Linked DNA regions of Homo sapiens: all the other regions are linked to region 2. The links come from fine-mapping of genetic effects on plasma protein levels. Region 2 holds a variant in brackets. A gene starts in each other region. All regions are shown on their forward strands.

Evidence for each region. A credible set is the group of variants that fine-mapping cannot tell apart. PIP is the posterior inclusion probability: the model's chance that the variant is causal. The UK Biobank Pharma Proteomics Project read protein levels with antibody pairs (Olink). The fine-mapping took linkage between variants from a reference panel, not from the people measured, so its PIPs are less certain.
Region 1: it holds the start of CD5L, and the variant in region 2 is the best candidate, but not a certain one, in a credible set for the plasma level of the CD5L protein (UK Biobank, PIP 0.81).
Region 3: it holds the start of FCRL5, and the variant in region 2 is the best candidate, but not a certain one, in a credible set for the plasma level of the FCRL5 protein (UK Biobank, PIP 0.54).

Annotation. Positions count from the first base shown.
Region 1 is chr1:157,834,338-157,842,499 of GRCh38, forward strand. CD5L (CD5 molecule like) reads right to left here and starts at 7,471. Exons shown (of 6, transcript NM_005894.3): 1 at 7,337-7,471; 2 at 5,047-5,073; 3 at 1,498-1,818; 4 at 70-411. The coding sequence starts at 7,364.
Region 2 is chr17:7,555,105-7,563,282 of GRCh38, forward strand. It overlaps TNFSF12-TNFSF13 (TNFSF12-TNFSF13 readthrough), which reads left to right. Exons shown (of 11, transcript NM_172089.4): 6 at 1,674-1,798; 7 at 4,520-4,598; 8 at 4,742-4,789; 9 at 4,945-5,063; 10 at 5,246-5,384; 11 at 5,620-6,497. The coding sequence ends at 5,729. TNFSF12 (TNF superfamily member 12) reads left to right here. Exons shown (of 7, transcript NM_003809.3): 6 at 1,674-1,798; 7 at 1,995-2,777. The coding sequence ends at 2,246. TNFSF13 (TNF superfamily member 13) reads left to right here and starts at 3,646. Exons shown (of 6, transcript NM_003808.4): 1 at 3,646-4,193; 2 at 4,520-4,598; 3 at 4,742-4,789; 4 at 4,945-5,063; 5 at 5,246-5,384; 6 at 5,620-6,497. The coding sequence starts at 3,936. The coding sequence ends at 5,729. SENP3 (SUMO specific peptidase 3) reads left to right here and starts at 6,815. Exons shown (of 11, transcript NM_015670.6): 1 at 6,815-7,159; 2 at 7,962-8,178. The coding sequence starts at 7,973. It also overlaps SENP3-EIF4A1. RefSeq lists enhancers at 1-287, 2,396-3,189, 2,775-2,834, 3,645-3,694, 6,069-6,318 and 1 more and a silencer at 6,879-6,958. The variant G/A (reference allele first, on the strand shown) is at 3,829.
Region 3 is chr1:157,548,019-157,556,198 of GRCh38, forward strand. It overlaps FCRL5 (Fc receptor like 5), which reads right to left and starts at 4,497. Exons shown (of 17, transcript NM_031281.3): 1 at 4,314-4,497; 2 at 1,542-1,562. The coding sequence starts at 4,344.

The DNA of each region.
Region 1 (8,162 bases), not on the chromosome of region 2:
ACTGTTTGAATGAGATTCCACATAATTAAATCCATGAATAAACCTAGTCTTTGGACGCACAGGCATTACCTTCACATTCGACCCACGTGTCTTCATCATGGTTGCAGGTGTTCTTCCCCCAAGGCCCAGAAGGGCAATCCTGAAGGGTTGCTTCTCGTCCTGAGCATGACATCTGGCTCAGCCAGATGGGTTTTCGGCCATAGGCATGCTTGTTGCAGCGTTTTTGAGTCAGTACAGCCCTCCCACATCCCAGCTGCCGGCACACCACCTTTGCGGCCCGGAGGCTCCAGCCTGTCTGGCACACGGTATACCACTGGTTCTGGTGCTTCACTTCCACGCGTCCCTTGCAATGCCCAGGGCCGTCAGCCAGCCTGACACCCTCTGGGACTGGGGAGAAAGAGCTCTCTGGGTCTGAGGGGAAAGAAAGAGAGCGTGTCTGTTCTCTGCCAGAACATGGTCTTCTCAGTAAAGGCGGCCCAATGGACACATCTCACAGTTCTTGGTGTTCAGTACAAGGCATGCTAAAGTGCTTAACACTGCCTCATAGATGCCTGCTGAAAGAATGAATGAGGGAATCAATGAAGAAAATGTAACTTCCAAATTCAAAGCTGAATCATTATCATTTCTGTAGCATTTTAATTTTTCAAATTGTTTTCATGTTCAACTTGTCATTTGATCCTCACAAGAGATCTTGTATAGACTTTTAAAAATAAATACAATAACATACAAGATATATCCAACACCAAATGCTTTTTGGTTCATTGTTGGCGTTATGAACTAAATATCTCAGATTAGTGCTCCCAACCCTCAATCTTTCTAAAAAATAGGACTGAGTCTTCAATGTCAAGGCAAAAAGTGACTGTTTCCCTAGAAACAAATTCTGTGGGCAGACAAAGAGGAGCCATGGACTAGCTCCTCAATCACATCGCTGTCTAATGAACAAAAGAGAAGAGACTACTCATACATATAAAGCAAGTATGTGGGGGGAAGTAAAGGAGCACAGATCCGTTTGTCTATGTATCTTTCTATCATCTATCCACCTGTCTATTAGATTGTGTTAGTTTCCTATGAGTATCTCCTTTCTACCTGATTAGAAGATAAACTCCTGGAAAACTGAAACTATTTTTTAAAAAGCATACATTATACTTTGTGAGCTCATTTCTTCCCCCATAACTCCATGCCCAGCTCCAGATACAGTATACTCTATTCAACAAATGTTTAGTGGTGTGCATGTTGGCATGTGTGTAAATAAGAGAAACAAGTTCTCATATAGATTGAAACTAAGATGAAAGCATTTGCTCAACCAAGTAGGAATTGCAGTTCTAGGTGAGGATATTGTTTATCTCCAGCACTGACAGTTGGGAAAGTATGAGATGTGGGGGGTGAGGGGCCAATTAGCCATTGTGTGAACGTCTATGGTAGGGAATGAAGACCAACAAGAGTGGCCGTGAGGGGTATGGCAGCTGGCAAGTGGTCCGGGACCCCTGCCATACTCACTCTCACACGATGCCCCAGCATCTTCATCATGTGAACAATCATAAACTTCTTCTTGCTCACACTGAGCCAATGTATCTTCTGTTCCTGTGCAACTGACTGATTGGATGAGGACCTTTTGCTCTTTTTCTGCTGGTGGCTCATACAAAATACCACTAGGGGTTCCGCTGGCAGCTCCACAGCCCAGCTCCCGGCACAACACAGCCACGTCCTTAATGTCCCAGCCGTCATCACACACGGTGCCCCACTGGCCTTTCTGTTCCACCTCCACCCGCCCTTCACAGCGGTGGAGGCCCCCCACCAGCCGCACTCCAGATGGAGACGCTGCAAAGAGACGGGTTGTTAGCTAGAGGCCTGAGAGGAGCTCAGAGGGTCCTTAGGCATGTACTCAGTCAATCTGGGACTCTTCCACCATTCAAATGGTGCAGAGTGTTGGGGAACTAGAAATAAGGGATCAGAAGAAAAGGGAAGGAAGAGGAGCTTCAGAACTCCGTGTCTGAGTTCTGGTTCTGCTACAGCCTTAATGGTACCCTGTCAAGAAACTCTACTTCAAGATACCTGGACATGACTGCTGGCATTTTCAGATTGAAGATTAAGGAAAAGAGGTTGGTTGAAGATCCAGCAGAGTTTTAGATTCTCTGGCGGTCAGAATCAGAAGGCCCTAAAGAGATCATAAAGTCCACCCCATTATTTCACAGATGAGGAAAATCATCCTCATGAAAGTTATGGTCCTATGGCTACATTGTCCAAAAGTGGAAGCTCCAGGCCAGAACAGAGGTGTAAAGAGAATATCTGTTGCGTTTTTCCTCTTCATGACTCTGTCTCTCTCCATGGAAGTCAGATTGAGGCAGAGTGTGTACAATTCGGGCTGAACAGCCTAACTATCTCTCACTCTCAGTGGCCAATCCATGCCCATACTTGCTGCTTCCTATGAAATTGTTCCTTGTTCAAGCGCCCATCTCAGGAGAAATACAGAGCATAGGGAAAGGGAAGAGTCAGAGTCTCAGAGCCCCAAGAGTTTGGTCTAATTCCAGGGACTAGAAGCATAAGAGAGGATTCATGGAGTCTCCAGATAAGTTGTGAGAAATCTAGGACTTGATTCAGTTTCATGACTAGAACTCTGGAAGTACAAAAGCTAACAGAGGTGGGGTGTGATGGCTCATGCCTGTAATCTTAGCACTTTGGGAGGCTGAGGCAAGTGAATTTCTTGAGGTCAAGAGTTTAAGACCAGCCTGGACCACATGGTGAAAACCTGTCTCTACTAAAGAAAATAAATAAATGAATACAAATATTAGCCAGAAATCGCTCAAACTCAGGATTTGGAGGTTGTAGTGAGCCGAGATCATGCCACTGCACTCCAGCCTGGGCAACAGAGCAAGACTCCATCTCAAAAAAAGAGAAAAAAAGAAAAGACTAACAGAAATTTTCTTCCTTCCACCAAGACATGCAAGGAGAGTGGAGATGGCTGTGTAGGGAGACCAGGGAAGAGCCTATTAGACAGCAAACATTTGTTAGGTGCGTACTACATTTCTGTTTTGTTTGTTTGTTAGTTAGTGAACTCAGAGAACAGTGATGAGTTCTGCCCTCAAGAAGCTTATATTAAGCTTGGCAATCCCACCAAGCCTCCTGCAGCCTCAGAGCAATATAGCAGAGGCTGAATTTGCCATGCTTACATGGAGAGAGACGGTTAGCTGAGAGAGTTCTTGTGCACCAGGAGAGGCCACGTTTGGACTGGAAGTCTATGGCCTATTGGAAGATGAACAGCTTAATAGGGGCCAACATGGGCCACATGGGATGACCCAGGTTGCATGCATGGATAGAACGTGACTGCTGAGGACCAGATTTCCCACAGACTAACTTGTCACAACTGCACACAAAGTCCCCAGAGTTTAGAATCAGTCCAAGAGAAGTAGTTCAGTGAGAAAACTCTAATCTAGCTATTTTTTTTTTTTTTTTTTTTTTGAGACAGAGTCTCACTCTGTCGCCCAGGCTGGAGTGCAGTGGCACGATTTCGGCTCACTGCAAGCTTCGCCTCCTGGGTTCACACCATTCTCCTGCCTCAGCCTCCCAAGTAGCTGGGATTACAGGCGCCAGCCACCACACCTGGCTAATTTTTTTGTATTTTTAGTAGAGACGGGATTTCACTGTGTTAGCCAGGATGGTCTCAATCTCCTGACCTCGTGACCTGCCCGCCTTCGCCTCCCAAAGTGCTGGGATTACAGGTGTGAGCCACCACGCCTGGCCTAATCTGGCTAATTTTAAACTGCATCAGGAAGCTTATGTTTATTTCATGCATTTGTTTTTTAGTTTCTTTCCTTTGCTTAAATTTTTTTGGGAAAAAATATAAAAATGGAGGCTAGAGATAGCAATTAAAAGTTAACCATAAAAAATAGGGCTTTTATATAAACCGTAAAAAACTAAGAAAAGTTTTCATTTTCACACAACTGAGTTTAAGGCTTATAGATCTGGGTAAAAATATAATGTAAGAGCAGTTATCCAGAAACGTTTTTATCTTCATGAGTAGCATGAACCGTAAATAATTTGGGGGTCATTGTATCTGACATTAGAGTTTGGATTGGCATTATTGCATACTCCAAGAAATACTAGCTATCAGGATTAACAGGATATTTTCTTTCCTTGCTGATTGCAAAATTCTCAATTTTTAATCAATTTTCATTTTCTATGGGGTAGAAGACTAAAATAGCCATGGGAAAGAAGAAATAAATAAAAAATAAAAAACAAAAAATAAGTAAACAAGAAATTCAGGGAAAGAAGAAATAAATAAAAAAAAATTACTTTTTTAAAAACAAGAAATTCAGCTTGAGGAAACAGAAGGGCTAATCTGAATGTCAAGATGAGAACCCAGGAAGGTTGCATCTATCAGGGTATAGGATTCTCCACACCAATAGCAATGTTTCTGGCTGCCCCTCTCTGGTAAAGTCTCTATGATCAAGCAGAAGGGGAGACTGGAAGGATAATATACAAGAAACTGATAATCCACAACCCATAGCCTCCCTCTTCTATAAACTCATTCTCTCTGTGCACCCTTTCCTTGGGTTTATCATTTGTGCATTACCCAAAGACTCCCCGAGCAGGAAATCCAGCCTATGCTCTGCTGGTCAAGCTATGTGCTGCAAGCAACAATGCATTTCTAATTCAAACAAAGACACCATTAAGCCTGGCAGGGGGACCTGGATATGCTGGAAACCAACAGGAAGAAACCAAAAGGAAGTTCATTTTTCAGGTATGCCCATAAGGCAGTGAAGTGCATTCTAGACCTGAAATGAACCCAGCTCTTACTTGGATGCTGGCCAAGTGGCCACAGAAACCAAGTGGGGAGAGGTACCCCCTGCCAGGATAAACCACCCAAACCCTTCTAAATTCTGGAGGTGGAAATCTGCCCACACAAGACTGAGTGGGTGAGGTAGGAAGCCAGAAAGGAAGTCTGCTGGGCCTGTTTTGAACAAGTCTTTCTCTGTGGCTCAAGAAGCTTCAAAATTTTCCCTCTCCTAAGCTTGAGGCCTCCCTCTCAGAAACCCCCAAAAATCTTACCTAGGAATCCAGGTCTGGTGCAAATGGCTGGGGAAGAAAGAAGGAAATGAGTGAGGTCAATTTCCAAGGCTTTATTCAAAGAACACAACTCTAGAAGGCCTTCACAGAACTGTGTGAGACAAGAGTGGTAGATGCAGAGCCTCCAATGTCAGTCCTGTTGGGACCTTCTTCTTCTGGGATGACCATCCTCCAAGGACACAGGGACACTGGCTAGGAATCACAGAGACCAATTCCACCACAGCTAACTGGTTCAGCCTGCTTTCTTCACACGTGATGGTGGATAGATTGGTTTTCTATTCTAGTCAATTAGATTGATTGGTTGTTACTGCCTGAAGAAAAGTGTGGTGATACAGCCTCTTGGCTCAACAGGAAAGAGTGCTGGAGGCCACTGGGAAGATGCACTGGCCGGTGGAGGTAAAGATGCCATGGTGGGCAGAGCAGAAATTAGGGCAAAGGGGCAGGATATGCCTGTGTTCATCGGCACAGCATTTAGACCAGGTAAGCAAACTCTTACTGTAAGAGGCCAGACAGTAATATTTTCAGTTTTGTGGGCCATACAGTGTCTGTTGCAACCACTCAGCTCTGCCATTGTAGCCTGAGAACAGCCACATATATGTATGCAAGTGAGGACGGCTATGTTCCATTAAACCTTTATTAGACACTGAAATTTAAATTTTTTGTCATTTTCATGTGTCATAAAATAGTATTTCTCTTTTGCTTTTTTCCTACCATTTAAAAATACAAACCTCATTATCAGCTTGCAGGCTGTTTTAGCTGATTTAGATGAATAGCTCAGGAAGTAGCTCTATATGTAGTTCCAAACCTCCAGATTCCAGCACCAGCCTGTCTTTAAAACATGGGGGTTTCTTCCTGCAGGATCTCTGTATATTTGGACTCCTTTCTCCATAAGGTCCCTCCTAATGCTGTAGAGAGTCCTGGGCCCTGTAACCTCCAGGAGTCCCTGAGGCCTATGCATTTTCAACTGCAAAACACCCACCACCCCCATCTTATAGGATTTTTCAGAAGGTGCAAATATCTTTGGACCTCCAGCCTACAGTTTTTCAGGCAGATTCAAGTAGTTCAGTGGTTTATCCTGGAATATTTTCTTTTCTTGGTTTCCAAATAACCTCTCATTACCCTCATTCCCTTAATCTTCAGAATGTGGCCACTCTCAGGCTCAATGAGGCCTTTTCTGCAACTATCCAAAACTCAAGGTTATATTATACATATGGGAATCATTGCATAACCCCAACCCAACATGTGTACATGTGAAGGAAAGTGAGCATGGCAAGCCTGATATGCAGGTGCAAACGTGATATAGCCAGTAAGTGACTTGGAAGCTCTGCAGTAGGGTGGGTAACTGCAGAAGGCACAGGCCAGAAAGGCTTCATGAAGCAGGTGGAAGTGCACATGAGCCTGGAAGACCCAGTAGTATATCCATGAGGGGCAGGACTAGCCGTTGAGTGATGTGGGGGATGCATGGATGTTTAAGATGTGGTCAGTACCTTACATTGAACACAAAAGTGTCCAGTTGAGAGGATTGTGTGGGCTTTGGTGATGTACTAGATCATCAAGACATAAAAGTGGATGTGATTGATTAGCATAGGGATTTACCAGGCATTGTTAGATGCTTTATATTAGTTATCTTATAAAAAAAAATACTCCTAAAAACCTCTGAGGAACATAATATTATCCTCACTTCATAGATGAGAGAGCAAAATTTCAGAGAGGTATGGTAACCTACGAATTCACACCGCTAAGAAATCAAAACGGCAGGATTGAAATCCAGGTCTCCTTGGCTCCACAATCACCAGATTAACTAGGTTAATCTCTAGATTACTCTAAGCAATGAGAAACTGAAGAAAACTAGAAAAACATTATATGAAACACTTTTCAGAGGAAACCAGACAATATGATCAATGAAAGGTGATTGTCTTGCAGTTCTACTTCCTTTCCTGGCTCTACTTGCTGCTGCCCGGTGCCCATTCATTTGTCTTCTTACTAATAGTACATTTAGGAACACTTATGTAAAAAGAGAAATGGGATAAACTATCATGACTCTGTCATTACAAATATAAGAAAATAGAAAAAAATCTGTTAAAGTGAATTACAAATGTGTATGGATTAAGCGGCTTTTTAAGGATTAGAATAGTTACCAAATGTAAAAAGGAGGAAGAAGCTCATCCTTGAAAAACATCTAAATCTGTTCCAGGTTGGCGGGGAGAAAGTTCTCCTAATCAAAGTGCCAGAAAACTCTGAAGCCTAAACCAACAGGTGCAGAGATACTCACCAAGGATCAAGGAGAATAGCAGAGCCATGACCAAGGCAGGTGAAGGTGATGAGCTGAAATTTAAGGCTAGAAGGAGGTCCCCAAGCAGCAATATTTAGTTTTAGCTGCAAGTATGTTAAGAGGAGGGACAAAGACAGGTCCTGAGTGCAGGCAAAGCATTATCAGATGATCAGAAACCAATAGACTCGGGGGGCAGAGCTGACAGAGCTGGACTTGCTGAAATCAGCATGTTCCAGAGGAAAGGAGGTGGCCAGAACTGGCGGAAAAATGCTGAAAACAAAATAGAAACAGGCTATCATGACTTGGTTCTGCTGTAAGTCCAGCTCCGTCTGTCTCTCCTACAGCCCCTTTGCTATGTAAACAGAGGAAACACCTCCCACAAGGAAAGGCAGGTGCCAAAAATATGGCCATCTCTCAGTAGAAGACAAGGCAGTACTTAGTCGCCAAGGATGGTTTGCAAGGGAAATAAGCCAATTTTGATTCCTTTACCCCAGAGGGAAGTGCCTAGAAAATTTGGAAGCCAGAGGCCATGGGATAAATGCAGAGTTGCCCTTGGAGGCATATCCCATAAAACATAATCCAGGGTCATGGTGCCAATCTCCACATACAGGCCTGGCTTTATTGTCTTCAAACCTGCTTTCTCACTGCTAAGCAGAGGGTCCAATATACAGATTTGTTATTTTTCTATGCTTGTGCTGGTGTATGCCCATCTTTGGAAGCTGGATGGAAACAGATCCCTGAGGTGAGGGGCATCATAATCATTGAACTCAAGTTGTCTGTAGGTCTAAGACATGATGGACAGAGATTAAGCAGTAAGACCCTCTCA
Region 2 (8,178 bases):
CCACTGCACTCCAGCCTGGGTGACAAGAGTGAGACTCCATCTCAAAAAAAAATTTGTAATTACAGTGGAATATGACAAGAACAATAATAAAAGTGGCCAAGATACCTGGCAACACAGGGGAAGACAGACATGGCTGTGGAGTCAGGGATTCTCTCCCTGCATCGCAAGGTGCCGCTGGGCCTTGAAGCAGGAGCGTAAGACAAGACAGGCAAGGGGTCAAGAATGGTGGGTGCAAGCAGAAGCAGCCCCTGGGGCAAAAGCCCCGGGTTTGCCCAGAGCATGATGAGGCTGGGGGACTCTAAGTTCAGCGTGGCAGAAGCAGAAAGTGCTAGAGGAGCGAGATGGGGATGAGGCTGGAGACAGAAGCCAGGCCACACGGTGGCATGTGGGAACTATTCTGAGGTGAGCCATCGGAAGGAGGAAGGCGAGGCGAGGCGGGCTTACGTCTGCATCTTAGAGACTCATTCTGTGGCTTTGTGTAGGGAATAAACTGGAGGAAGCCAGAATGGAAACAGGGAATGCTGTGAAAACCAGACAGAGGCACCAGATGGGGGAGAGAGGGGAGAGAGCTATTTAGGAGGCAGGATAGATAGGAACTGGTGATCGATTAATGATGTAGGTAAAGGAGAGGGAGGCTTGAATATCCCCCTGGTGGCAAAACCAGAAGCCAAATGTGGAAAACAGACAGTAAAGCAAGAGTGGGATGAGGGGGGTCAGCTCAGTGTTGGTTGAGATGAGTTTGAGGGGCTATTGCTGTTCAGATGGTGCAGTTGGCAGGGTAAGGAAGGGAAGGAAACTTCAGGGCTGGAGACTCTGCAGAGCACAGGTTGTGGGAACCCATTGGTGGAAATAAAAATGCCCAGTGAGCGTTTTTTTTGTTTTTTTTTTTTTTTGGAGACAGAGTCTAGCTCTGTTGCCCAGGCTGGAGTGCAGTGGCATGATCTTGGTTCACTGCAACCTCCCCATCCCAGGTTCAAGTAATTCTCCTGCCTCAGCCTCCCATGTAGCTAGGATTACAGGTGCCTGCCACCATGCCCTGCTAGTTTTTGTATTTTTAGTAGAGACGGGGTTTCACCTTGTTGGCCAGGCTGGTCTCGAACTCCCGACCTCAGGTGATCCGCCCACCTTGGCCTCTCAAAATGCCGGGATGACAGGCGTGAGCCACTGCACCTGGCTGAGCATGATGTTTTCAAGGCACATCTGTGCCATAGTGTGTATCAGTACTTCACTCTTTTTATGGCCAAATAATATTCCATTATATGGATAGACATTTTGTTGATGGACAATTGGGTTTCATTTTATTATTTTTAGTTGTACTAATTCAGATAATGTATGTTTACATCCTCCATATAAAAGAAGCAAATAATATAGATATCCATGAAGTAAAACATTAAATCCCCTCACGCTTCTCCTTCAGTTCTACTCTTCTCCCCAGAAGTGACTGCAGGTGACAATCTGCCCTGAATGTCTCTGGCCATATACATTAGATTTTTTCACATAACTTCCTAGTCAACTATGGGCATCATAGGGGATGGGTCCTCCCTTGCCCGGGGTGATCTATGTGTCTTCTGGGTAAAGTGGGCGCCGAATGTTCATATGCTCAATGGATCCCTGGGGAGTGTGGGGGAGTCCTGTAGAGAGACGTTTCCTTATCTCTGAGCATCCGTGTTCAGGTGTGGACGGGACAGTGAGTGGCTGGGAGGAAGCCAGAATCAACAGCTCCAGCCCTCTGCGCTACAACCGCCAGATCGGGGAGTTTATAGTCACCCGGGCTGGGCTCTACTACCTGTACTGTCAGGTAAGCCCCATCTGGCTGCATGGGTAACGCAGTAAGAGAGTGGCGAAGGGTTTGCCAGGAGAGTGGGGGACAAGCTACAGGGCTGGGAGGGTGAGTTGGGGTTTGGGTGGGATGGGATGCCTGCGTCGCTGAGGAAATTGGAAATTGAGGCGAGGGCAGGCAGAGGCCTGGACTCGGCCTGTTGTCCCCACCCCAGGTGCACTTTGATGAGGGGAAGGCTGTCTACCTGAAGCTGGACTTGCTGGTGGATGGTGTGCTGGCCCTGCGCTGCCTGGAGGAATTCTCAGCCACTGCGGCGAGTTCCCTCGGGCCCCAGCTCCGCCTCTGCCAGGTGTCTGGGCTGTTGGCCCTGCGGCCAGGGTCCTCCCTGCGGATCCGCACCCTCCCCTGGGCCCATCTCAAGGCTGCCCCCTTCCTCACCTACTTCGGACTCTTCCAGGTTCACTGAGGGGCCCTGGTCTCCCCGCAGTCGTCCCAGGCTGCCGGCTCCCCTCGACAGCTCTCTGGGCACCCGGTCCCCTCTGCCCCACCCTCAGCCGCTCTTTGCTCCAGACCTGCCCCTCCCTCTAGAGGCTGCCTGGGCCTGTTCACGTGTTTTCCATCCCACATAAATACAGTATTCCCACTCTTATCTTACAACTCCCCCACCGCCCACTCTCCACCTCACTAGCTCCCCAATCCCTGACCCTTTGAGGCCCCCAGTGATCTCGACTCCCCCCTGGCCACAGACCCCCAGGGCATTGTGTTCACTGTACTCTGTGGGCAAGGATGGGTCCAGAAGACCCCACTTCAGGCACTAAGAGGGGCTGGACCTGGCGGCAGGAAGCCAAAGAGACTGGGCCTAGGCCAGGAGTTCCCAAATGTGAGGGGCGAGAAACAAGACAAGCTCCTCCCTTGAGAATTCCCTGTGGATTTTTAAAACAGATATTATTTTTATTATTATTGTGACAAAATGTTGATAAATGGATATTAAATAGAATAAGTCATAGTCTCTCTCTTTATTGGGGCTCAGGGGACACTCTCAGGGTAGCTGGGGGCCACGTGAAGGGGGGCGTTGCGGAGCGGCACAGCTGGAACTCCGGGATGATGTTCAGGCTTGGGGGCGGGGACCTCCATGCCTCCAGCCCCCAGGTGGGAGCAGAGGTAGGAAGGCACACTGCCCAGGAAAAAAATCAATCCTCCGCCCAAGGTACAGCAGAAGCGGCCTCCTTGGCCTAGGAGGCAGACTTCCTCCTGCGGGGAAATCCCTTCCTGGCTGGGAGGAGCAGGGGCCCTTCCTCTTGGTGGCCTCGGACATTCAGCAGGTGCTGGCACAGGCCCTGGCTGGGAGGTGGGGCGGGCAGGAGCCAGCCTGGAGGAGGGGCTGAGAGTCAGCAGGCACACGGGAACCCGGAACCCTGTGTGCTGGGGAGGAATCCCGCAGTGGCCGGGGGGCTTGAGGCCGCTGCTTTGTCTCTTCGTCCAGAGCCTTATGTAAGAGCTTTTCTCGGGAAACAGGAAGTCCTGCTTGCCAATTTCAGCACAGGGAGTAGTGCAGGCCTTATTCCAACACACCCGGCCCAGCCTTAACCCCAGAACTCAGCCAGTTTCTTGCTTCCGTGCCCCTGGTTCTCCTCCCCATCGAGCCCACCCCTCCTTTCCCACCTTCAGTCACCCCTAGTGAACTGCCCCAGCGATCTCTGCTGTGCTTGACCCCGAGGGTCTTCCACCCTCGCCCTGACCCTGGACACTGCCCAGCTTGGCCCCCCATCCTGCTCCTGGCACAATGCCCTCTAGCCAGCCAACCTTCCCTCCCCCAACCCTGGGGCCGCCCCAGGGTTCCTGCGCACTGCCTGTTCCTCCTGGGTGTCACTGGCAGCCCTGTCCTTCCTAGAGGGACTGGAACCTAATTCTCCTGAGGCTGAGGGAGGGTGGAGGGTCTCAAGGCAACGCTGGCCCCACGACGGAGTGCCAGGAGCACTAACAGTACCCTTAGCTTGCTTTCCTCCTCCCTCCTTTTTATTTTCAAGTTCCTTTTTATTTCTCCTTGC[G/A]TAACAACCTTCTTCCCTTCTGCACCACTGCCCGTACCCTTACCCGCCCCGCCACCTCCTTGCTACCCCACTCTTGAAACCACAGCTGTTGGCAGGGTCCCCAGCTCATGCCAGCCTCATCTCCTTTCTTGCTAGCCCCCAAAGGGCCTCCAGGCAACATGGGGGGCCCAGTCAGAGAGCCGGCACTCTCAGTTGCCCTCTGGTTGAGTTGGGGGGCAGCTCTGGGGGCCGTGGCTTGTGCCATGGCTCTGCTGACCCAACAAACAGAGCTGCAGAGCCTCAGGAGAGAGGTGAGCCGGCTGCAGGGGACAGGAGGCCCCTCCCAGAATGGGGAAGGGTATCCCTGGCAGAGTCTCCCGGAGCAGGTGAGTGAGGGGAGGAGGGTGTCTGGGAGAGGATGGTTAGCATGGGGGGTCTCTGGGCCTCCTGGTCTGCAAAGTTTCAAGGGGGTGCAAGAGAGGGTCTCCGGTTTGGAAGTCAGGGGCGCGGCCATTCCAGGAAAGGAAACTGTTAAAGGTTAATGCTTCTCATACCTAACAAATCCTGGAGGGCAGCCAGCACCAACACTCAGGGTGCTGGGAAAAGGTGCGTGAGAGATCTGAGGCATCTCGGGGGCAGGGGAGGGCTGGGAAGGCAGGCTGGCTGGGACCCTCGCATCTTAACCTAACCTTGACCCTCTTTCCATGAGCAGAGTTCCGATGCCCTGGAAGCCTGGGAGAATGGGGAGAGATCCCGGAAAAGGAGAGCAGTGCTCACCCAAAAACAGAAGAGTGAGGCTTCCAGGGTGCAGCAGGGGTGGGAGGTGATCAAGCAGCGTGGGGATTGTAAGCCCGAGTCAGGGTGAGGGTGGAGGCTGCCAACAGCACAACGGGGGAAAGTGGATGCGGCTGAGATTCCCTCCTTCTCTCCTCAGAGCAGCACTCTGTCCTGCACCTGGTTCCCATTAACGCCACCTCCAAGGGTGAGCACTATTTTAAATAATGGCTTTGGGGAGGGGCAATAACCAGGAACTCGGGCTGGCACTTGGGCTCAAGGGGTCCTTATAGGTGAAAGGGAAAGAACCAAAAAGCACCTGAGAGTGCCAAGAAGTCCTGACCGACACACTCTCACCTCCAGATGACTCCGATGTGACAGAGGTGATGTGGCAACCAGCTCTTAGGCGTGGGAGAGGCCTACAGGCCCAAGGATATGGTGTCCGAATCCAGGATGCTGGAGTTTATCTGCTGTATAGCCAGGTAACCCCAGCCACACTCTGAGCTTCACAGAGGGCCTCTTTGGCCCCCTACTGAGGGTTCCTGACCCCTCTATTCATACCAAACCCAGCAGACCCTTCTTTCTTCCCTCGTTAGCGCTCCTGAGGCCTCCCAGAACTGAGCCAGGCCATCCTGTTTTCTTCAACATCTCCCTTCCCTGCCAGGTCCTGTTTCAAGACGTGACTTTCACCATGGGTCAGGTGGTGTCTCGAGAAGGCCAAGGAAGGCAGGAGACTCTATTCCGATGTATAAGAAGTATGCCCTCCCACCCGGACCGGGCCTACAACAGCTGCTATAGCGCAGGTGAGAGCCGTGTGGGCAGCCGAAAGCAGGACGTCTCTGACCGGGGGTAGCAGTGCAGGGAGCTACCGCTAGGAGGGAGGTTGGAAACCTAAACAGAGGCGGGTCTGAGGAGTGAAGTGCAGAATGCCGGGTCCTTACAGGAGGCAGAGGAACGGTGGAGCTGGAGAAGGCAGGGGGAAACAGGGCATCTGGATGGCTGTGCTTCACTGCGAATCTACTTTCTCTCTTTTCTCAGGTGTCTTCCATTTACACCAAGGGGATATTCTGAGTGTCATAATTCCCCGGGCAAGGGCGAAACTTAACCTCTCTCCACATGGAACCTTCCTGGGGTTTGTGAAACTGTGATTGTGTTATAAAAAGTGGCTCCCAGCTTGGAAGACCAGGGTGGGTACATACTGGAGACAGCCAAGAGCTGAGTATATAAAGGAGAGGGAATGTGCAGGAACAGAGGCGTCTTCCTGGGTTTGGCTCCCCGTTCCTCACTTTTCCCTTTTCATTCCCACCCCCTAGACTTTGATTTTACGGATATCTTGCTTCTGTTCCCCATGGAGCTCCGAATTCTTGCGTGTGTGTAGATGAGGGGCGGGGGACGGGCGCCAGGCATTGTCCAGACCTGGTCGGGGCCCACTGGAAGCATCCAGAACAGCACCACCATCTAGCGGCCGCTCGAGGGAAGCACCCGCCGGTTGGCCGAAGTCCACGAAGCCGCCCTCTGCTAGGGAAAACCCCTGGTTCTCCATGCCACACCTCTCTCCAGGTGCCCTCTGCCTCTTCACCCCACAAGAAGCCTTATCCTACGTCCTTCTCTCCATCTATCGGACCCCAGTTTCCATCACTATCTCCAGAGATGTAGCTATTATGCGCCCGTCTACAGGGGGTGCCCGACGATGACGGTGCCTTCGCAGTCAAATTACTCTTCGGGTCCCAAGGTTTGGCTTTCACGCGCTCCATTGCCCCGGCGTGGCAGGCCATTCCAAGCCCTTCCGGGCTGGAACTGGTGTCGGAGGAGCCTCGGGTGTATCGTACGCCCTGGTGTTGGTGTTGCCTCACTCCTCTGAGCTCTTCTTTCTGATCAAGCCCTGCTTAAAGTTAAATAAAATAGAATGAATGATACCCCGGCTCCATTTCCCCCACTGCCTCGCCTCAGCCCGGTCCTCGTACGGGGATCTCCCGCCCTCCTGGCTCTCCTGTGGCGCGCCCCCCGCCGGATCAAGGTACTGGGGATGCCGCTAGGGTCAGGCCCGCGAGCGCGGAGAAGACAGAGCGCGGCGCAAAAGGGAAAGTGGCGGGGCCGCCACGCGCGGCCGGGCGGCGGATGTGCGCAGGCGCAGCCTCGCGTAGCGCTCTGGGCTGGCCAGTCCCGTGGCGCCGGCGTCCTCGGGTAGACGGGACCGCGCGCTTGGTGGCCGCGCCGGCGCTCTTCGCCGGGTGTGACGTACTAATCGTGCGCCACCGCTGCCGGTGGGCCCGGGGCTCGCGGGAGGGGAAGGAGGAGGGGGGGAGGAGTGGCGGCGGCGGCGGTGGCGCTGGTGGCGGCGGTGGCGGAGGTGGAGGTGGAGGTGGAAGCTGAAGCTGAAGCAGAGCCAGAGGCGGCGCGGCGGGGTGCTCGGCGGCGCGGCACGCGGCCCAGAAGCGTTGGAATCCTGAATTGAGACGGCTGCGCCTAAAGACAGCAGGAGTGGCGGGGCCGCCGCCGTCGCCGGAGAGATGAGCCGGGAAGCTTGAGGCCGGAGACGCCCGCCTTCGGGCCCGTCCGCCCGGCTTCCCCGCTCCCGGTGAGGACGCCCCCTCCCCTCCCCCCAGCCCTGCCTTGGCCTCTCCCATTCCTGGGCCTCGCTCCCACCGAACCGGGGCCCAGAGGCCCGCATAGGGGCTTCTTAAGGCCCGTGTGCGCCGAGCCATCCAAGCTCGTGGGACCGGACTGGTGCCGGGTTGCATTCTGGTCCCCGAGGATGAAGTAGGAGGGGGCTGGGCCGGCCTGGCTTGTGCGCTCCGTTCTGTCCCAGCGTCTTGATTCGGTTCTCTTTAAGTTTCCTTCAAAGTTCTTCCCCGTTTATCAGCCTCTGCCCCCTGAACCATATCCCTGGCATCTGCACTTGAGATGACCGCAGCCTTCCCATGCCCCCCGTTCATCCAGGGTGTTAGAGAACTGTCTCCCATTCCAGTCCAGTTTCCACGTGCAAGTTGCATTCTCCTCAAGTACCACGGTTATCATGTCCCTGAGGAAAGAAACTGCCCTTGTTGGGCCCTCAAAGGACAGCCCTGGTGGTATTAAAATAAAGACGTAGAACCTGGCAGTGCTATTGGGTTTGGCCTGGTGATCTTAGAAATAAGATCTCTGAGGCCTGCTGCTTAGCCATTTTCCCTTGTCTCTGGACTGGGGAGAGATGATGGCACAGACCCTGAAGGGCCCCTTGTGGACCGCGTTAACCGGGAAGATCTTAAGTTAGGAGTTTTGCGTTTTTTCCTCTTTTCTTTATTTGCATCTGAATCCAGAGGAGGCATGGCCAGGAAGAGAGGCAGGATCTGCGGTGGGGTGATGCTTAGATTTTGATACCCTGATCTTTTGTTTTTCAGGGTACTGGAAGATGAAAGAGACTATACAAGGGACCGGGTCCTGGGGGCCTGAGCCTCCTGGACCCGGCATACCCCCAGCTTACTCAAGTCCCAGGCGGGAGCGTCTTCGTTGGCCCCCACCTCCCAAACCCCGACTCAAGTCAGGTGGAGGGTTTGGGCCAGATCCTGGGTCAGGGACCACAGTGCCAGCCAGACGCCTCCCTGTCCCCCGACCCTC
Region 3 (8,180 bases), not on the chromosome of region 2:
CAGTGGGATATTTTCAGGGTATTTTTCTGGCTCGCTGATTGAGAGGATCCTATCCTGAGTCAATATACTTGCCATGGAGTTGAAGATGTCCTGCCTGGCTAAATGGGGTCTGTTGGCAATAATAGTAAATGCAGGGCTTAGCAAAGGCTGGGAGCTGCTTGGGCATTCACCCCTTCCCCCAGGGAGGGTCAGAGGGTGACCATGAAGCTATCCTGGCCCTTGGACGATGCCAAAAAACCAGGCATCACTTTGAAATCCCTGCTGACCTCAGCAAGAAAACAGGAGATATTGTTTTAGGTCTAACATTTAAGTCTTTAAGAAAACCTAGGCAATACCATTCAGGACATAGGCATGGGCAAGGACTTCATGTCTAAAACACCAAAAGCAATGGCAACAAAAGCCAAAATTGACAAATGGGATCTAATTAAACTAAAGAACTTCTGCACAGCAAAAGAAACTACCATCAGAGTGAACAGGCAACCTACAGAATGGGAGAAAAGTTTTGCAATCTACTCATTTGACAAAGGGCTAATATCCAGAATCTACAATGAACTCAAACAAATTTACAAGAAAAATTCAAACAACCCCATCAAAAAGTGGGTGAAGGATATGAACAGACACTTCTCAAAAGAAGACATTTATGCAGCCAAAAGACACATGAGAAAATGCTCATCATCACTGGCCATCAGAGAAATGCAAATCAAAACCACAATGAGATACCATATCACACCAGTTAGAATGGCAATTATTAAAAAGTCAGGAAACAACAGGTGCTGGAGAGGATGTGGAGAAATAGGAACACTTTTACACTGTTGGTGGGAGTGTAAACTAGTTCAACCATTGTGGAAGTCAGTGTGGCGATTCCTCAGGGATCTAGAAGCAGAAATACCATTTGACCCAGCCATCCCATTACCAGGTATATAACCAATGGACTACAAATCATGCTGCTATAAAGGCACATGCACACGTATGTTTACTGCGGCACTATTCACAGTAGCAAAGACTTGGAACCAACCCAAATGTCCAACAATGATAGACTGGATCAAGGAAATGTGGCACATATACACCATGGAATACTATGCAGCCATAAAAAATGATGAGTTCATGTCCTTTGTAGGGACATGGATGAAGCTGGAAACTGTCATTCTCAGCAAACTATTGCAAGGACAAAAAACCAAACACCGCATGTTCTCACTCATAGGTGGGAATTGAACAATGAGAACACTTGGACACAGGAAGGGGAACATCACACTCCAGGGCCTGTTGTGGGGTGGGGGGAGGGGGGAGGGATAGCATTAGGAGATATACCTAATGTTAAATGACGAGTTAGTGGGTGCAGCGCACCAACATGGCACATGTATACATATATAACAAACCTGCACGTTGTGCACATGTACCCTAAAACTTAAAGTATAATAAAAAAAAGGAAAGAAAACAGGAGATATTGGAGATCTCAGGCAGCCATCACAAATGTTTTCTATTTATTAGGAAGAGACACTCTTAACCAGAGACGCTGAAGAGCCAAAGACAGGAGAACTCACCAAACTGTCCACTGACAGGAGCTGCAAAAAAATAAGAGCCAGAGATGAGCACAGAACCATGATTATTTTGTTTTAAGAAGATAATTCCCTTTTTTACCCATGCATGTATTACTTGTCCCTTTAAAAAATTCATTTAAAAACTCTAATAATTATTCATCAAATGTATATATATACACATAAATATACATATATATACATATATATATGGCATGGTATTTGGACTTCTACAATGAATTTTAAAAATGGTATCTGCCATCAAGAAGTTGACTAGTGGAAAAACAGAAACACGATTTAAAATAATATAACACAGGGTGTAAGTGCAATAACAGAAATACACATGGGGTATGTTGGGGGCAGAAGGGCCACTAGCCCAGTGTGTAGGATATATGTGTGTGTGTAGAGTGTGTGTTTGTGTGTACATGTGTTGAACAGGATGGGTGGATCCTTGAAGGTACCTGAAGGAGATGATACTTCACAAAACTGTGAGTGAGAACATGAGTCTGCAGGTGGATGTTAGCATTTGTGTGTGGTAAGAGGCGATTTCTACCTTTCAAGGTAGAAAGGGCACAGAAGTGGAGAAATGACATTGGTGCTCAGGAACTGGGAGTGTTGGGGGAAATAAGACCAGAGAAGCATGCAGGGCCTGAGTAAGTGGTTCTAATTTTATTATAAAAGTGATAAGGAGTCATGGAATGGTTTCAAGGAGGAGATTGACAAGGTTAGAATTTCAGACTTTGATGGAGCACTCTGTCAGTGGACAGAATTTAATGGGACAATATGAAGCAGGGAGACTGATTAGAAGGCAGGGCAAGGAAATGGACATGAATTAAGCCTCCCTTGGGCACCAGACTCCAGGCTATACTCTTTTCATGAGATCATTGAATCCAAGGGCTCATTATCATCATGCCTAATTTTTAAACAATCAACTGATGCTCAGATTATTTAGACCTGATGCTCAGCCCAAGAGATGGTAATGTGTAATTTTTGTCAGAGTATTTATCCAAATTATCTTCATTATCTGCTTGTTTATTTTCCCTTCTCTATAATGCAAGCTCTATGAGACCTAGGACTTTCCTTATGTTCACCATATATCCTCCAGGACCTATAACGGTGAATGGCATATAAAAGATATTCCTTTAATGTTCACTAAATATATTTGTGTTGTATAATGAATTAATTAAAGAACTAGGTTAATAATATAGGAATAGAAGGATAGAGATTTGAGAAATGGGTAATGAAGAGAGAGAGGACACAAAACTGGCAGGTTTATCAATTGAGTAGGTATTCTGCATATGGGTTGATTTATTTATTCAACAGATTTTTGGAATGCCAATCATACTCCAGAGCAAGGCAATAGAAATCCAGGAGTGTGTGAGAGACAAATCATCCCTGTCCACATGAGGCTATTGGAGACTTATCCAAACTTAAGTGTTTTACTGAGAACAACAAATTATTCACCATTCACCTGAATATTTTGGCTTCCTTCATCTTTGCATTGTTTTAAATGAAGCTAATATTTTTGTGAGTGGTTTCTATATGGTCTGCATTTACGTAGGTTATTTCATATAACCATGTCAATAATCCTGTGAGGTAAGCACTAGGATTAACTGCATTTTGTAGACCAGGAATCTGGTAGCCAGTAGGTGGCAAGATGAAGTTTGAACCTAGATCCTGTTTGACCCCAGAGCCCATGTTATAAACTTTGCCCTCTCATGCTCAGGACCTGGCCATTACCCACATTGTGTGGGGCCACACTGAGATGTATTCCTACTTCAGGAATTATAGTCCATGCACCTTCCAACTGTGAGGTCCTCTTTTCTTATATCACGCCTGCTCCATTTCTGCTCCTCTAGCTCCTACTCACCTCTAAGTTTCATGAAGTCTTTACTAGCTATTTTGAATACAGTTTATTATCTGCCTACAGCATTCATTGGTAACTTTGCCTGGACAATTATTTAACTGGGAGCTTGTTGCATAGCTGCTTGAAAGTACATTGGCCTTGCTGGGAGCCCTTCTATGTCATGACTTTCCAGAACATAGACGTAGTGTCTCCTATGGACTCTAATTGCTCAGCACCTGTGCATAGATATTACTAAACACATTTGCTGAACAAATAAATAAACATATTTAATTATAATATTTAACCTTTAGTAAAAATCAACCAGTTCGCACATATGAGTTGATAGAGACTTACGTACACCCACAGGGACAAAGAGAAAGTCATATGCTTTAGATTTATCCTTGCTTTGTCCACCTACGCCTCTGCGACCTCCTCCACCCCATGTTCTTAATCAGCCAATTGCTGCAGTGGTTTGCAATTATGTACAAGAGAAAGACCTGTCTTTCCCGTTAGAAACCTTGCCTCTTATGCTGGGGACCAGGATCTGGCCTTGTCATACAAGGAATAAATACATCTCCTCTGCAGAGAGGAGAGTGGGCTCTTCTATGAGTAAGACAATATGAACAAACAAACATGAAACATTCTCTGGACTTTAAGAAGTACTTTTTAAAGAAAAAAATAAATGAAATTTTAATTGTTGTGGTTATTGTGGTTTCCTACTCTGTAAGATTGAAAATTCCTTCCAGCTGTGGCCATTTTCTTCAGCCTCAAGAGAAAGCCCTGAGCTACAGAGTAAAGTTCAAAAATACAGTCTCCTAATGTAGGAGAGAGTCTCTCAGCAGGGGCTGAGCCCCAAGAAAGGACCAGGCCTGCGGTGGAGAGAGAAGCTGTCCCGATCCCACCCAGGGCCCATGGTGAGCCCTTTTACTCACCCAGGACCAGTAATATCACCCACAGCAGCATGAAGACCTGGACCACCAAGGGCTGAGATCAAAAGAGAAGTTTCCTCAATTCCAAAACAGGTTTGGACTTGATCTTACAGTCAGGACACTGCACACCAGCTCCAAGGAGCACATCTGAGAAGCTGTGCTCTCAAAAAGAGCAGAATGCATTAGTGAATTGAAAAAAGGAAGTGGGAGTACCCGTCTTCAGCTGCTAATCACAGTTTCCTACCCGATGATCAAAGAAAAAAAAAAGTTAAGGTTTTAAAAAATCAAATACCCTTGACCCTACATTTTTGCTATTGGGAAATTACCCTGAAGGAAGTATCTGAAGAGAGTACTATAAGAACGTTTATTGTAGCATTCATTATTGCCTAAACACTGGAAACAAAACAAAAAACCATGATATGGGGACTGTTTAAGAATATTCTGATTCATCCGTATGGTGACAAGCAATCATTAAAGAATAAGGTAAATCTGAACATGCCAAGAAGGGAAGACCACCTTGTTTGATGTGAAGAGAATAAAAGTGAGATATAGATTGGTTTTGTAGTATTATCCCATTGGGTAAATATAAAAAATAGGATATATGTGTACATCAACTCTTTTAAGTATACTTTCTTCTTTTCCTGGAAAGTACACACAAAAATATTGATTATGTTTGAGGAGCAATAGGTGGGAAGAACACAATTTATTTTATGTATTTCTGTACCGTTTGATTTTTTAAAAAATTACCAGGTGAATGTATAGCTCTTATGATTTTCTAAAAGTCAAGTTTCCATCCTGGTATACTGGTCAACAGAGGTTCCTAAGACATTAGCTGCCACGAGGAGTGCCAGTTTCTTTCTTTCAAATATTTTCTCACCCTTTCTCTCTGGGCCCATACCTTGGTCTTCCTAAGGGGGCATTTAATTTTATATCTACAAATGCACATCACCTTAGGTATATTATGTCACATCTGACCCACTGCACCCTGAGGCAAGAAAACCATACAGGGGTTACAGGGGTGAATAGAGATTAAGAGGAGAACTTCAAAGGGAACACAGAATCTTTACCTACTTTTGGTGCTAAAACAAATAGTGCTGCTATGAACATTCTTGTATACATTTATTGGGGCATATGCGCACATAATTCTGTTGGGTATATATCTGGGAGTGGAAGTCCTGGCTCATAAGGTATGCATATATTCAGTTTAGGAAGTATTACCAAATTATTTTCCAAAGTGGTTGTGCCAATTCCCACCACACCCACCAACCAATGTATGAGAGTTATCATTGTTCTAAAATTCTTGCTGATATTGGTATTGTCATCTAGTAAAATCTGGCCGTTCTGCTAGAATTATCTCAATGTGGTTTTAATTTGTATGTCTCTGGTGAATTTGAGAATGAGCATTTTTTCATAGTCTAATTGGTGATGTAGATATCCTTTTTATGTGCAATCTCTGTTCAAATATTTCCTCATTTTTCTCTTAACTTTCAGTCTTTCTTTTCCTGTTTTGTAGTTATTTTAAACCCTGAATATAAACCTTTTGTTGGATATATGTATTGCAAATGTCTTCCTTCAATCTGTGGCTTGCTTCTTTGCTCATTGATAGTGCCTTTTGATGAACAACCATTCTAACTTTGACATAGTCCAGTTTATCAGTCTTCTCCTTTGTGGTTAGAGATTTTTGCATCCCTTCTAAGAAAGTTAGTCTACTCCAAGATCATAAAGATACTCTCCCAGGTTATCTTCTAGAAACTTTATTTTTTACCATTTATTTTATATTTATAAGAGCATTGCAATTGATTTTTGTGTACAGTTTGAGTGTTTATATTCACTTTTAACTTAAATACAGATAATTTATCCTGCCCTATTTATTGAAAGTTGATTTTTTCCACAGTACAGTGCAATTTCACCTTTGTTATAAAACAAAAAGCCATGTAGGTCTATTTTTGGAAACTCCTTTCTTGTCCATTAGTCTATTTTGTCTATCCTCATGCCAATACCACACTCTTCTAATTATTGTGGCTTTATAATAACTCTTATTAACTGATAGTTTAAGTCATAAAATGCTGTTCTTCTTCAAAATTGTTATGGCTATTTTTGGCTTTTTGAATTTTTCTATACATTTAAAAATCACCTTGTCAATTCCTGTCCCCTCTCTCCCCAAAAGCCTAGTAGATTTTTAATAACTGGGATTGCATTGGATTTATAAGTTAATTTGTATAAATTAGAAAAGATTTAGTCTCCCAATCCATAAACATACAATATCCCCTCATTTATTTAGGTTAACTTGACATTCTTTCAGTAATTTTCTATAGCTTTGCCTCTGGAAAGTATATCTTTTGGTAGGTTTATCCTTAGGTTATTGATATGTTTTTTATGATATTGTAAGTGACATCATTAGATTTTTTTCTAAATGTATATTGGTATATAGAAATATAATACTTTTTTGTTTTACTGACCATTATTTTTATTTTTTTGAGACAGAGTTTTGCTCTTGTCCCCCAGGCTGGAGTGCACTGGTGCGATCTTGGCTCATTGCAACCTCCACCTCCCAGGTTCAAGCGATTCTCCTGCCTTAGCGTCCCAAGTAGCTGGGATTATAGGTGTCTGCCACCATGCCCAGCTAATTTTTGTATTTTTAGTAGAGATGAGGTTTCACCATGTTGGCCAGGCTGGTCTCAAACTCCTGACCTCAAGTTATCTGCCCGCCTTGGCCTCCAAAAGTGCTAGGATTACAAGCGTGAGCCACCATGCCCGGCCTTACTGACCTTTTAATATCTACTAAAATTGCGGAATTTACTTATTAATTTTAATAGTTTATCTTTAGGTTATTTTAGATTTCATGCAAACACAATCATATAATGATAGTTTTATTCATTATTTTTAATACTTAAACTTCCTTTTCTCTCACTTATTGCACTGACTAGGAACTCAAACATGATACTAAAGAGAAGTGGTAATATCAGGTGTCCTGTCTTAGTCTCACAGAAAAAGCTCTTAATATTTCAATATTAAATATAATATTTTCTGTAATTTTTTTTGGTGAATACTATGTATCAGATTAAATACCTTTCCTTATATTTCTAATTTGCTAAGAAATTTTCCTTTTTTCCTAAATAATGGATGCTGTTTCAGTAAATACCTTTATTGCCTCTATTAATATGATCATATGATTATTTACTTTTATTGTTAATATGATGAATTACATGGATGATTATAAATGTAAAATCAACTGTGCATTCCAACTTGGCCATGATGTGTTATCTTTTTTATATATTCTTGAATTTGACTTATAAATTTGCTGTGCTTTTTAGCATTTGTGTTCATGAGGAAGATGGACCAATTTTCTTTCTTGATGAATTTTAGTAACAAAATTATATTGGTCTCATAAGCAAGCTCCTTCTTTTTCTATTTTCGTGAAGAGTTTGTGTACGACTGATGTTATTTCTTCCTTAAATGTTTGGAAGATTTTACTGGTAAAGGTACTTACTTAGGCTTATGAAAAAATGCTCACCATCACTGGCCATCAGAGAAATGCAAATCAAAACCACAATGAGATATCATCTCACACCAGTTAGAATGGCAATCATTAAAAAGTCAGGAAACAACACGTGCTGGAGAGGATGTGGAGAAATAGGAACACTTTTACACTGTTGGTGGGAGTGTAAACTAGTTCAACCATTGTGGAAGTCAGTGTGGCGATTCCTCAGGAATCTGGAACTAGAAATACCATTTGACCCAGCCATCCCATTACTGGGTATATACCCAAAGGACTATAAATCATGCTGCTATAAAGGCACATGCACACGTATGTTTACTGCGGCATTATTCACAATAGCAAAGACTTGGAACCAACCCAAATGTCCAACA